Linked DNA regions of Homo sapiens. The protein of the gene in region 3 interacts with the protein of the main gene of each other region in a pairwise test. Each region holds a gene or a part of one and is shown on either strand. Other genes may lie near its edges. The genes, in order: CCDC88B, NAB2 and JAKMIP2.

Region 1 (3,747 bases), on a different chromosome or scaffold from region 3:
GGCTACCGGTTCTCCCTGCTCTCCCACCAGGAGGAGCGGGTGCTCTCGGGGGTGCTGGAGGCGTCCAAGGCGCTGCTGGAAGAGCAGCTGGAGGCTGCCCGAGAGCGCTGCGCCCGGCTGCACGAGACCCAGCGCGAGAACCTGCTGCTGCGAACCCGGCTGGGCGAGGCCCATGCGGTAAGGTAGCCAGAGTGATCCCACTTGGGTTGCCCCGTCACCCCATGACCCCATTGATTCCCTAGTGGTCCCTAGTGATTCTTGCAACCTCTGCTCTTGGTGACCTCTAGTGACCCTCCGACCTACACACTCGGCCTGGCCATGGTGTGGAGGGCTTGTCTGACCCTTCCCTCACCCCCAGGAGCTGGACTCTCTGCGGCATCAGGTGGACCAGCTGGCTGAGGAGAATGTGGAGCTGGAGCTGGAGCTTCAGCGGAGCTTGGAGCCACCTCCAGGATCCCCTGGGGAGGGTGAGGGACCCCACTGGAAGGGCTGGGGTGGGGGCTTCCTATGCTTTCCAGCAGTGTACTGGGGAGAGCCTCTGACTCCCTCCCTTCTCCCAAGCCTCTGGGGTGTGTATGTGAGGAGCCAGGCAGTAAAGGAGGGGTCCTGACCTCATCTCTCATCCTCAGCACCCCTAGCAGGAGCGGCCCCCTCGCTGCAAGATGAGGTGAGGGAGGCAGAGGCTGGGCGGCTTCGGACCCTTGAGAGGGAGAACCGGGAGCTTCGGGGGCTGCTTCAGGTGCTTCAGGGGCAGCCAGGGGGCCAGGTAAGTCCCCTCCCCCAGGGTCCTGGCCGGCCCTTCCCCTAGTCCCTCCCTGGGCCTGACTGTCCCTCTCGTATGCCCTCAGCACCCCCTGCTGGAGGCACCGAGAGAGGACCCTGTTCTTCCAGTGCTGGAGGAGGCTCCCCAGACTCCTGTGGCCTTCGACCACAGCCCTCAGGGCTTGGTTCAGAAGGCAAGGGATGGAGGCCCCCAGGCCTTGGACTTGGCTCCCCCGGCATTAGACTCAGTGCTCGAGGCATCAGCTGAGTGTCCCCAGGCACCTGATTCAGACCCACAGGAGGCAGAGAGTCCCCTTCAGGCAGCTGCCATGGACCCCCAGGCCTCAGACTGGTCCCCGCAAGAGTCAGGCTCTCCTGTGGAGACACAGGAGTCCCCGGAGAAGGCTGGCCGTAGATCCTCTCTCCAGAGCCCTGCCTCTGTGGCCCCACCTCAGGGTCCAGGGACCAAAATTCAGGCCCCGCAGTTGCTGGGAGGAGAGACAGAGGGAAGAGAGGCTCCCCAAGGCGAGTTGGTGCCTGAGGCCTGGGGGTTGAGACAGGAGGGCCCTGAGCACAAGCCAGGGCCTTCGGAGCCCAGCTCTGTGCAGCTGGAGGAGCAGGAGGGCCCAAACCAGGGCCTGGACCTGGCCACGGGACAAGCAGAGGCCAGAGAGCATGACCAGAGGCTGGAAGGGACGGTCAGGGACCCAGCCTGGCAAAAACCACAGCAGAAGTCAGAAGGGGCTCTTGAGGTCCAGGTCTGGGAAGGCCCAATCCCAGGGGAGAGCCTGGCCAGTGGTGTCGCAGAGCAGGAGGCCCTCAGGGAGGAGGTGGCACAGTTGAGGAGAAAGGCTGAGGCCCTTGGAGATGAGCTGGAAGCCCAGGCCCGCAAGCTGGAGGCCCAAAACACGGAGGCTGCCCGCCTCTCCAAGGAGCTGGCCCAAGCGCGAAGGGCAGAGGCCGAGGCCCACCGGGAGGCAGAGGCCCAGGCCTGGGAGCAAGCCCGGCTGCGGGAGGCAGTGGAGGCTGCTGGCCAGGAGCTGGAGTCTGCGTCCCAGGAACGGGAGGCGCTGGTGGAGGCGCTGGCAGCAGCGGGCCGGGAGCGGAGGCAGTGGGAGCGTGAGGGGTCCAGGCTGCGGGCCCAGTCGGAGGCCGCCGAGGAACGGATGCAGGTGCTGGAGAGCGAGGGCCGCCAGCACTTGGAGGAGGCTGAGAGGGAGCGCCGGGAGAAGGAGGCCCTCCAGGCGGTAGGTCAGGTTGGGGCTCACCGCTGGGGTTGGGAAGCAGAGTTCCAGGCTGTTGGGAGTTACTGATTCCATCAGCAGCTGTTCAGTGGGTGCCCAGCACTGAGCTGGGGCTGGAGATAGAAAGGCCAAGTCCACCCCTGCCTTCCAAAGGTGTGCCTGGCCTGGGGCACAGAGCCATGTCCACTGTGTGATGGGGGCGCTGTGGGAGGGGGTGGGACTGCCTAGTACACATCTTGGCTCTCTGGCTGCAGCAGTAGACTCACCTCCACCCCAGGCATCCTTCTGTAAAACAGGGGTACTATTCCTGGCCACCTGGGGTGGTCTTAGGAGGACCTTGGGAGACAGTAGCTGTAAAGGTCTGGTTCATGCTGGCAAGGGTATGTTGTAAGTGTTCAAGCACTGGTTATTCAGAGCCAAGTGCTACGAGAGCCCATGGGAGGGTGAGCTGATGCCCAAGTGGAGGCAAGGAGGCTTTAGGAGGAGTGACCATAATGTCACTAGGTGGGGAGGACATTTTGTCCAGAGGGAATGGCATGTGCAAAGACAAAGGCATTAAAGACGCTCAGGGGCTGGGTGTGGTGGCTCACACCTGTAATCCCAGCACTTTGGGAGGCCGAGGTGGGTGGATTACTTGAGGTCAGGAGTTCTATACCAGCCTGGCCAACATGGTGAAACCCTGCCTCCATTAAAAATACAAAAATCAGCCAGGCGTGGTGGCAGGCACCTGTAATCTGTTACTTGGGAGGATGAGGCAGGAGAATTGCTTGAACCCGGAAGGCGGAGGTTGCAGTGAGCTGAGATTGTGCCACTATACTCCAGCCTGGGCGACAGAGCGAGACTGTCTCAAAACAAACAAACACCATCCAATGAAACAACAACAAAAAAAGAATGCTCAGGGCCCAGGAGGAAGGGATGATGAGGGCCAGCTTTGAATGTGTTGGTCCTCCCTCCCCAGGCAGGGAAAGCCAGGGTAGAACTGTGTGGGGCTGCGCTTGAGGAGGGTCACCTTGGTGGACAGGGGAGCTTGGGGCTATCAGGACGCAGTAGCCATGGTGTAAGTGGCAGAGGAAGCTGACTAGGGAGGCATGGGAGTGGGTGTGAGAGGAGGACTGGACACTTTTTTCTTTTTGAGACAGAGTCTCCCTCTGTTGCCCAGTCTGGAGTGCAGTGGGGTGATCTTGGTTCATTGCAACCTCCGCCTCTCAGGTTCAAGAGATTCTCCCACCTCAGCCTCCTGAGTAGCTGGGAGTACAGGCACACACCACCACGCCTGGCTACTTTTTGTATTTTTTTTTTTTTTTGAGACGGAGTCTCGCTCTTTCGCCCAGGCCAGACTGCAGTGGTGCTATCTCGGCTCACTGCAAGCTCCGCCTCCCAGGTTCACGCCATTCTCCTGCCTCAGCCTCCGGAGTAGCTGGGACTACAGGCACCCGCTCCCGCACTCGGCTAATTTTTTGTGTTTTTAGTAGAGACGGGGTTTCACCATGTTAGCCAGGATGGTCTCGATCTCCTGACCTCGTGATCCACCCGCCTTGGCCTCCCAAAGTGCTGGGATTACAAGCGTGAGCCACCGCGCCCGGCCAATTTTTGTATTTTTAGTAGAGATGGGGTTTCATCATGTTGGCCTGGCTAGTTTCTTTCTTTTCTTTTCTTTTCTTTTTTTGAGACAGAGTCTCCCTCTGTCACCAGGCTGGAGGCGTGATCTCGGCTCACTGCAACCTCCACCTCCCAGGTTCAA
Region 2 (3,747 bases), on a different chromosome or scaffold from region 3:
ATACTCTGAATTTGGAGTCTGACTGTGCCCAAGTGGGTCCAAGTGGCTGTGACATCTACGTATGGCTCCACACCTCCAATGCTGCCTGGGAGCCAGGGTGAGAGTCTGGGTCCAGGCCTGGCCATGTGGCCCTCCAGTGTATGAGAGGGCCCTGCCTGCTGCATCTTTTCTGTTGCCCCATCCACCGCCAGCTTCCCTTCACTCCCCTATCCCATTCTCCCTCTCAAGGCAGGGGTCATAGATCCTAAGCCATAAAATAAATTTTATTCCAAAATAACAAAATAAATAATCTACTGTACACAATCTGAAAAGAAAGACGCTCTAACTGCTCAGATAGGTGCTGCGGTCCAGCCCCCAGCTGGAGGAGACCCTGAGTCCAACCCAGGCCTCCCGAGGGGGCCAGTGAAGGGATCCCACACCCACCGCCCCTATGTAGGGCAGGGAAGAAATTGCAAAGGACTTGGGGGATAGATGGGAATGGGAGGGCAAACTGCAGCACTTGTTAAATTAATTAAAGAAACAAACCAGAAGCACAAAAACGGGGAAGGAGAGGGGAGAAGGAGCAGGTCCAGTGTTCCCAGGCCCCCAATTCTGGGGGCAAATGTTGCCACTTTTAGCTGGACCTTCCCAGGGAAGTCCCCCTTTCCCCCTTGTCCAAACTGAGTCCAACTGCTCACACCACTGGTGCAAACCTAAAGAGAATGGGAGTGTGTTGTGTGAGGGAGGGGAAAACCCCAGATGCCCTGGAGGCAGAGTCCTTGCCCCCTCGCTCTGGGCAGGGGTGAGGGCACCACGCACCCTCCTTGTGTCCTCTCTCCAGGCCTCTGCTTGTTATTGCTTGAAGCCCCACAGTCTTATGCCCATGGAGCAGGTGGGGAGGCAGGAGAAGGGCAGAGGAAGGATCCAGGGTTGTGACTAGATTCCGGGGATGGAGAGCGTGGGGGTCTGTGTGAGCCAGAAGTCTGAGGTCCTGGGTCTGAAGACACCAGTCCAACCCTCACTGCCGGCTGGCCTCAGCCTCCACTTTCACGCTGCTCCTGCGACCCTCCACCAGCGCGGGATGGGGTCCTGGGGCAGGACATCTGTCCAGCAGCCCTTCCTCGAACTCTGCAGGGAAAAGGGGGCAGTTAGGAGACTGCAGGGTGACTGGCTGCAGACAGAGGTGGTTGGGAACAGAAGCAGGGGCAAAGAAAGCTGTGAAGATGGGCTCAGTTTAGGTTTATTGAATTACTGCCTCCTGCCCACTGCATGTGTATGGGGGGTTCCATTCCCATGTGTGTGAGCCCCCTCCCCTCCCTGGCTGTGCGTAGCTCTGTCTCTGTCTGTCTCTCTCTCTTTCTCTCCCGCCTCCTCGGTTGCGCTGGAATTTCTGGTTCTGTCAGGAGCTGCGGGGGTGGTTTGGCTCTGACCTCTCCCCTCCCCCCTTCCCAAGCTCTGCCACCCCCACTCATCCCTGGCCCCCTCCCAGGCCCCTCCCAGGCCACTCTACCATGGCCCCCCAAGTTTTTTGGTAGCCAAATCAGAGGGAGAACAGGAAGCCAGCCTCCGAGCTCCTCCCTCAAGAAGAGCCCCCCTTCCAGTCCCCGCCCCCACTTCCCACCCACGCACAGTTTAAAAATACCAAGCCAGGGTTGGTGGCTTTGTCTGCTGCGTCACTCTCAGCCCAGCGGCTGCCCGGCCCTCCGCCTGCCCACTCCCTCTTCCCCCTTCCACACACAAAGCATCACTGCTTTGGGCTCCTCTGCTTCCAAGCTGGGCATCCCCATCCCCATACCCACAACTCCTAGCCTGCTCCCCACTCCTGGGTTGGTGGAAGTGCCATCTGAGCTTCCCTTATTGATGCTCCTCCTTCCTGCTCCTTCATCCTCTTTTCTCTGTCCCCCCATTCCCCAGTTCCCCTTTCACAGATCTACACTAGGACCAGACTTTCCATGGTGGGAGCAGCTCGGCAGGGTCTGCCTCTCTGCACCCCAAGGCCTGGCTGGCTGGAGCCCAGCCATCCTACTGCCCTCTCTGACGACTATATCCCTCTTCCTCCCACCTGGCCCCAGGACACCAGAATTGCTGTGTGGGGCCTGAGTGGCCGGGGTGCTTGGGGACAGCACTGCTGGCTGCCTCACCTGCGAGAGGTGGCTTCGCAGGCACACAGGGGCTGAGGCGGCCCACGCGGTCGTGGGAGACGAGGCGGGCGAGCCGCAGCCCCTCGTCCATCAGTGTCTGCTGCAGGATGTGTCGGCTCCATAGCCCATGGGCTGGCAATGCCAGAGGCAGGTCAGCAGGGGGCGGCGTCAGCCTTGGACATGACCCCACAGCTGTGGGCATGGGCACTGGTCAGGTAAGGGGCTGCAGCCAATGGAACCCCCACCCTCAACCACATAGCCAGCCCACAGGCCCTTCTGCCCCCCCTCCAGCCAGGTCTCCCAACCCTGTTTCAGGCACTGCCTCCTGGCTCACTCCTCCCCCAACCCCCTCCCCTACTCCCCCACCCTCAATGAAGAGAAAAGTGTTCTGAGGCACACTCACCCTGCAAATGTCCATCCAGACTCTCCCCAGACAGGCTGGCGCTGTCCTCCTCCAGGCTGGGGCGGTATGGGGGTACATAGGACTCAGGGCCTGGGGGAGGCTGCTGGATTTCAGGGTGACTCTGTTCTCCAACCTGTGGATGCCCAACATGGGGAAATGAAGACCTGCCAAGGGAGGGGATTGGGGAAGGCTGCCCAGTGCCCCTATATGCACCCCGGAAAACATACCTCTTGTTTCAGCTTCTTCAGTGGAGGGCCTCCCAGTTCTTCAGGGTGAAGCCTGAAAAGATGGGTAAGAATAAAGTGGATGAGGCTGACGAGGGCCACTCGACTGGCAGAGCACAGAACCCAGCCAGAGGCATGTGTTATTTAAAACCTTTGCCAAGAAGCTGGCCGAGAAAGAGTCTCTAGTTCAAGCACTATTGTTGTAGGGGGTTGGGGGGACCCGACATGGATGGGAGGAGAGACCAGACCTGAGACAAGCTGACTTGGCCAAAAGCAGGACATCCAGGTGGGCGGGAAGCAGGCCTAGAGCTGCCTGAGCTGAAGGTTAGGACATGATCTAACTCCATAGCAGGATTCCAGTCCAGGAAGGACCTGGGGAAGGGGTCTCACCTGGAGCCCTTCAAGGAGGACAAGTAGGTGCTCTCTCGGGCTACTTGGCGGGACAAAGAGAAGAGCTCCACTCTCCGTAATAAGAGCGTGTTGTCCCTCATGCAGAACTGGGCAGCAGCCTCGTTGATGGTGAGCTGTGGAGGGAGGGCAGCCAGGAGAGTCAGAATTCGAACTTCCCCGCTGCCTCACCAGACCTCCTCACACCCCTTCACCATTGGACAAATGAGGCCCATCCATCAGACGCTTGCTTTGGTTTTGACACTACATGGGAGCTTTCTGAGGTGGGAAGACAGAGGTCAGCACCCACAGCTTCCTAGGAATGCCCGGGGCCTCCTCCTCTCCTGTGGGGTCCTGAGTGACAAGGAGCTGAACAGCTCGGTGCTGCCTGTATCTCTGCTTCCCCCTCAGCTGAGGATGGAAGCACTGCGGCCGCTGGGGTAGGGGCCTGTTGGGGAGGGGATCAGGGCCTGGGGTCCTGGTCAAGAGATAATGAAAGATAGTCGGAGACTGTAGAAACTCGCAGAGGTAAGCGGCTGGAGACCTGGAAGTCAAGGGCAATCCTAGGAGGCCTGGGGGTTCTCACCTCGTGCAGGCTGAGCTGCTTGCCCTC
Region 3 (3,747 bases):
GTAGAACACAATGACATCTTTCCTCACTTAAGACCTAGAAGTCTGCTTAAAGAGGGGCTTGGGTCCATATTGGAAGCATAAACTCATGACATAAACAGTCATCTAAGATTTGCTTTGAATGTTTATCATTCAAAAGTTATATTGAATTTTTTCAATGTAATAGATAAATCTAAATTAGTAAAATGATAGAATTAAACTGCCAAAAGCTGTCATTAATTACCAAAACACTGTTATGAAAATTTCACAAAAGGCAACAAGCAATGCAACTCCCAAATTACAGAGCAAATTTCTATTGCTCTGTGTGTGTGTGTGTGTGTGTGTGTGTTTGTGTGTGTATTCTGTGCCACTCTTTGACAGATTGAAATAATGCAATTAAATATTTTAAAAATAAAATTTCTATGCTGTCCATCTATCTTGATGTAATATAACACAGATGATCCAATTATTTAAACATCAACACAAAACCAATGAATATTCTTTTTACAGTTTCTACAAAAACCTAGGCAGGTTAAAAAGACGTGCTTCATTTTGAAACAATGAACTTGTGAATTATGTTAAAGCAAACATAAGAATTACACAATGGGTTTACAGGAAAATTTGACAGTCAATGGGCAAAAAGGAACAAGTTTGCCAGAGATTTATTTAAAATTGAAAGCAAAGTTGAAACAAAATACTGCAGCAAAATTTATTTGGCAAACTTTATTTCTCCTATTACTAGTGGAGAACACATTTGCTCTCTACCTAAGTGATAACCCAGGCCTTCTATATCAGCTCTACCTTATGGACTTGGGAAGACACATACAACCTGTATGAGCAGTTATTTGTGGGCCAAAAAAAAAAAAAAAAATTAAATCAAGATCTATTCTTCCACCCCTAAAACCTAACTGTTGGTAATAATTTAATTTATATAGCATAAGTCAGAAGGGTTGTAATTTTTTTCAGCAAATTCTATTTCCTAAAAGTAGGGTGGCATTAAAGAAAAGTTTGACATTCAATTTAGTAATAGATGCTTTTTAAGTATGATAGTCAAAGATAGTCTCTCTATGTTTTTCCCCTCTTTCATGAAATTTTTCTATCCTGAATAACTATTTAAATTGGGTCTTTTATTTATCTCAAATTATCTTTAGTAGTCAGTTATGTTTATTTTCCAGGGTATGAATATTTTATTGAGAAAAATTAAGTTAATGAACCCGGAAGAATGCTGTTCTGACTGCTACAAACTCAGTAGCCAAATGCATCTCGGTAGTACAGATGCAGAAGTGGGGCCACAGGAAATCTCAGTTATTGATAACTTTTTTTTTTTTTTTTTTGCTATTGCTGAACATCCCATCCAAGGGAAGCATTCATTTAAACACGGTCCATTTCCATGGATCCATGAGTGACTGGAACACATATCCACAATTTTGCTGATGCTTTTATAATTGTGAAAATGGATAATAGAGAGATGTATCTATTGAAATATTTATACTTTATTCAAGGATATATTCATTTTGAGGCTCATGAGCAAGAGTTGGTAAAAATTACAGTTCAGTCTATAGTCTTGAGAAATTTGCTAATCTCCCAGATCTTAAGCAAAAAGAAAAAACAAGCAAACCTTTTGCCTGGCCCTAAACACATCTAAAGCTGCTTGGACAATCATCCTAGCTGTTGTTCTCATATGACTTATAGCAGATAAGCAGATTAGGTATATAAACCATACCACTTTTTCAAAAATTTTCAATCATTTAGAAATAGTTACTCATGGAAATAAATTTTGACTTACAAATTTCTTGGTGGGTGGGAAAGCAAAATTAAGAGAAGGAAGGTGTGTGTTGGAGCAGACGGAATATAGATTTACTCATATGGGCCCTGCAACAGAAAGTGAAGAAAAATGGAAAAGTCTTAGATATGTGAGAGTAATTTATCCTCTTCCATATTTTCTGACTCAAGTTGGCTAGTGTTGGGTCACCAACACTGTAGAGGCACCCTCTTTCACATTTCTTGCCTAATGAGCATATGGCTCATATTTAATCTGGAACCTACCTAGTTGAATAAAGAATCCAGCAGGAGGCCGGGCACAGTGGCTTACACCTGTAATCCTAGCACTTTGGGAGGCTGAGGCAGGCAGATCACTTGAGGTCAGGAGTTCGAGACCAGCCTGACCAGCATAGTGAAACCCTGTCTCTACTAAAAATACAAAAATTAGCCAGGTGTGGTGGTGTGCACCTGTAATCCCAGCTACTAGGGAGGTTGAGGCAGGAGAATCACTTGAATCCAGGAGGTGGAGCTTGCCATGAGCCGAGATTGTGCCAATGCACTCCAGCATGGGCAACAGAGCAAGACTCCATCTCAAAAAAAAAAAAAAAAAAGAATACAGCAGGATAGTCTGTTTTGTATCTTCCCAGTAGGGCATACCACCTGGCTTTCCTCCAGAATAAAAGATAATCAAGCTAATTATGTGATACTGTCAGTTTGCTCCAAGCCTTTGTTTAATGACTGGCTCTCCTGTGGTAAAAGTGGGGTTCTGTATGATGGCATGCATATGCAATCAAGAGAGCTGGGAGATGCTTATCATAGAAATGACACACTCTTCTATCTTGTTCAATAGCATGAGATGATCTATTTCCTATAGATTATTAAAGATCCTGGTTTTGAATCTCTCAATTTTTATTGCTAATAATGTCCCAAGTAGCTTGATAAGCAAGCTTCAGTGCTATAGTGCTTAAATTTAACCAAACTGAAGCACTATTTTATTACATGAGGGAATCTTTTTGTCAACAACACAAGAAAGTCAAATAATACAGCACTTGTAATAATTACAAAGCACATTGTGCTACTTTAAGCACCTCTTGTTCTAAAATTGCAAATAAAACTTTATGAAAAAGCATTTTAACCCCATTTTGCAGATGAGGAAACTGAGGCACAGAGAGGTTAAGTGACTGGGCCAAAGATACCTGGGTCAGCAGTAAATGTAAGAACAAAAAGTGGGACCCCAGCATTCTAGTTTTTATTGTACATTCTTCAGTTATTGTTCTGGCTTTGCAAATGCCAGTGCTAAAACTGAAGGATGATAGTGAACCCACATATGGAAAGATTTGTATAGCATTTCATAGAAAGAGTTTCTGGCTCCCTACACATATTCTCTATGCATGGGAATTCTAGCCCCATAAATAAAACTTCAAAAATTTGAAAAATTGAGGTTGTTCTGTTATCTACAGTAAATGAGGTGTAAAATTAGCTTTTCAGGAACATACATTTGCTCTCAGAGATGACTCCAAGACTCAGTAATACACAACTTAGGAAAAGTACCAGTCCTCTAATTGTCTCTGGTAGAAAATGACCTTGTCAGTAACATAATGTTATTTCCATATAAAAAAGTAGAGCTATCTTGTTGCTGTCATCTGTCTGGGAAAAAATGTTATCACTCTAAACAAGAAGAGGTCAGAATGCTCTAGGCATGTGAGGATTCTTTAAAAAATAATAGTTTAGTTTAATATTCACATCTCTGTGGCAAACCCGACTCTTGGTAGAAATTTACTCATTGATTCTGCTGTGTTTTTGCCCAAATCATATAGCATATTCATTTGCAGGCAATTTTAAGCAGCCATTTGAAAAACAGTATTTTGGAAATGAAAGATTCAGAGATGCTCTCTGGCCCATGTTCCCTATAGATGTTGGCGTTCTAAACAGAACTAAGTCAGGGAGCATGTGATTTACAGTATCATCTTCTTAGTTTTCAATATGAATGAGATCAGTCCATTGTTGATA

What was found.
Region 1: the proteins of JAKMIP2 (region 3) and CCDC88B interact in binary tests that used the Homo sapiens proteins (3 or more experiments, as listed by UniProt).
Region 2: the proteins of JAKMIP2 (region 3) and NAB2 interact in binary tests that used the Homo sapiens proteins (3 or more experiments, as listed by UniProt).

What each region holds. Positions count from the first base shown.
Region 1 is NC_000011.10:64,343,149-64,346,895, forward strand, and holds part of CCDC88B (coiled-coil domain-containing protein 88B), read left to right. Parts: intron 1-30; coding exon 31-177; intron 178-358; coding exon 359-467; intron 468-629; coding exon 630-766; intron 767-848; coding exon 849-2,009; intron 2,010-3,747. UniProt on the Homo sapiens protein: Acts as a positive regulator of T-cell maturation and inflammatory function.
Region 2 is NC_000012.12:57,091,972-57,095,718, reverse strand, and holds the end of NAB2 (NGFI-A-binding protein 2), read right to left. Parts: coding exon 3,721-3,747; intron 3,272-3,720; coding exon 3,138-3,271; intron 2,803-3,137; coding exon 2,751-2,802; intron 2,657-2,750; coding exon 2,524-2,656; intron 2,313-2,523; coding exon 2,121-2,312; intron 1,108-2,120; coding exon 998-1,107; 3' UTR 243-997; downstream 1-242. UniProt on the Homo sapiens protein: Acts as a transcriptional repressor for zinc finger transcription factors EGR1 and EGR2. Isoform 2 lacks repression ability.
Region 3 is NC_000005.10:147,587,117-147,590,863, forward strand, and holds part of JAKMIP2 (janus kinase and microtubule-interacting protein 2), read right to left. Parts: 3' UTR 1-3,747.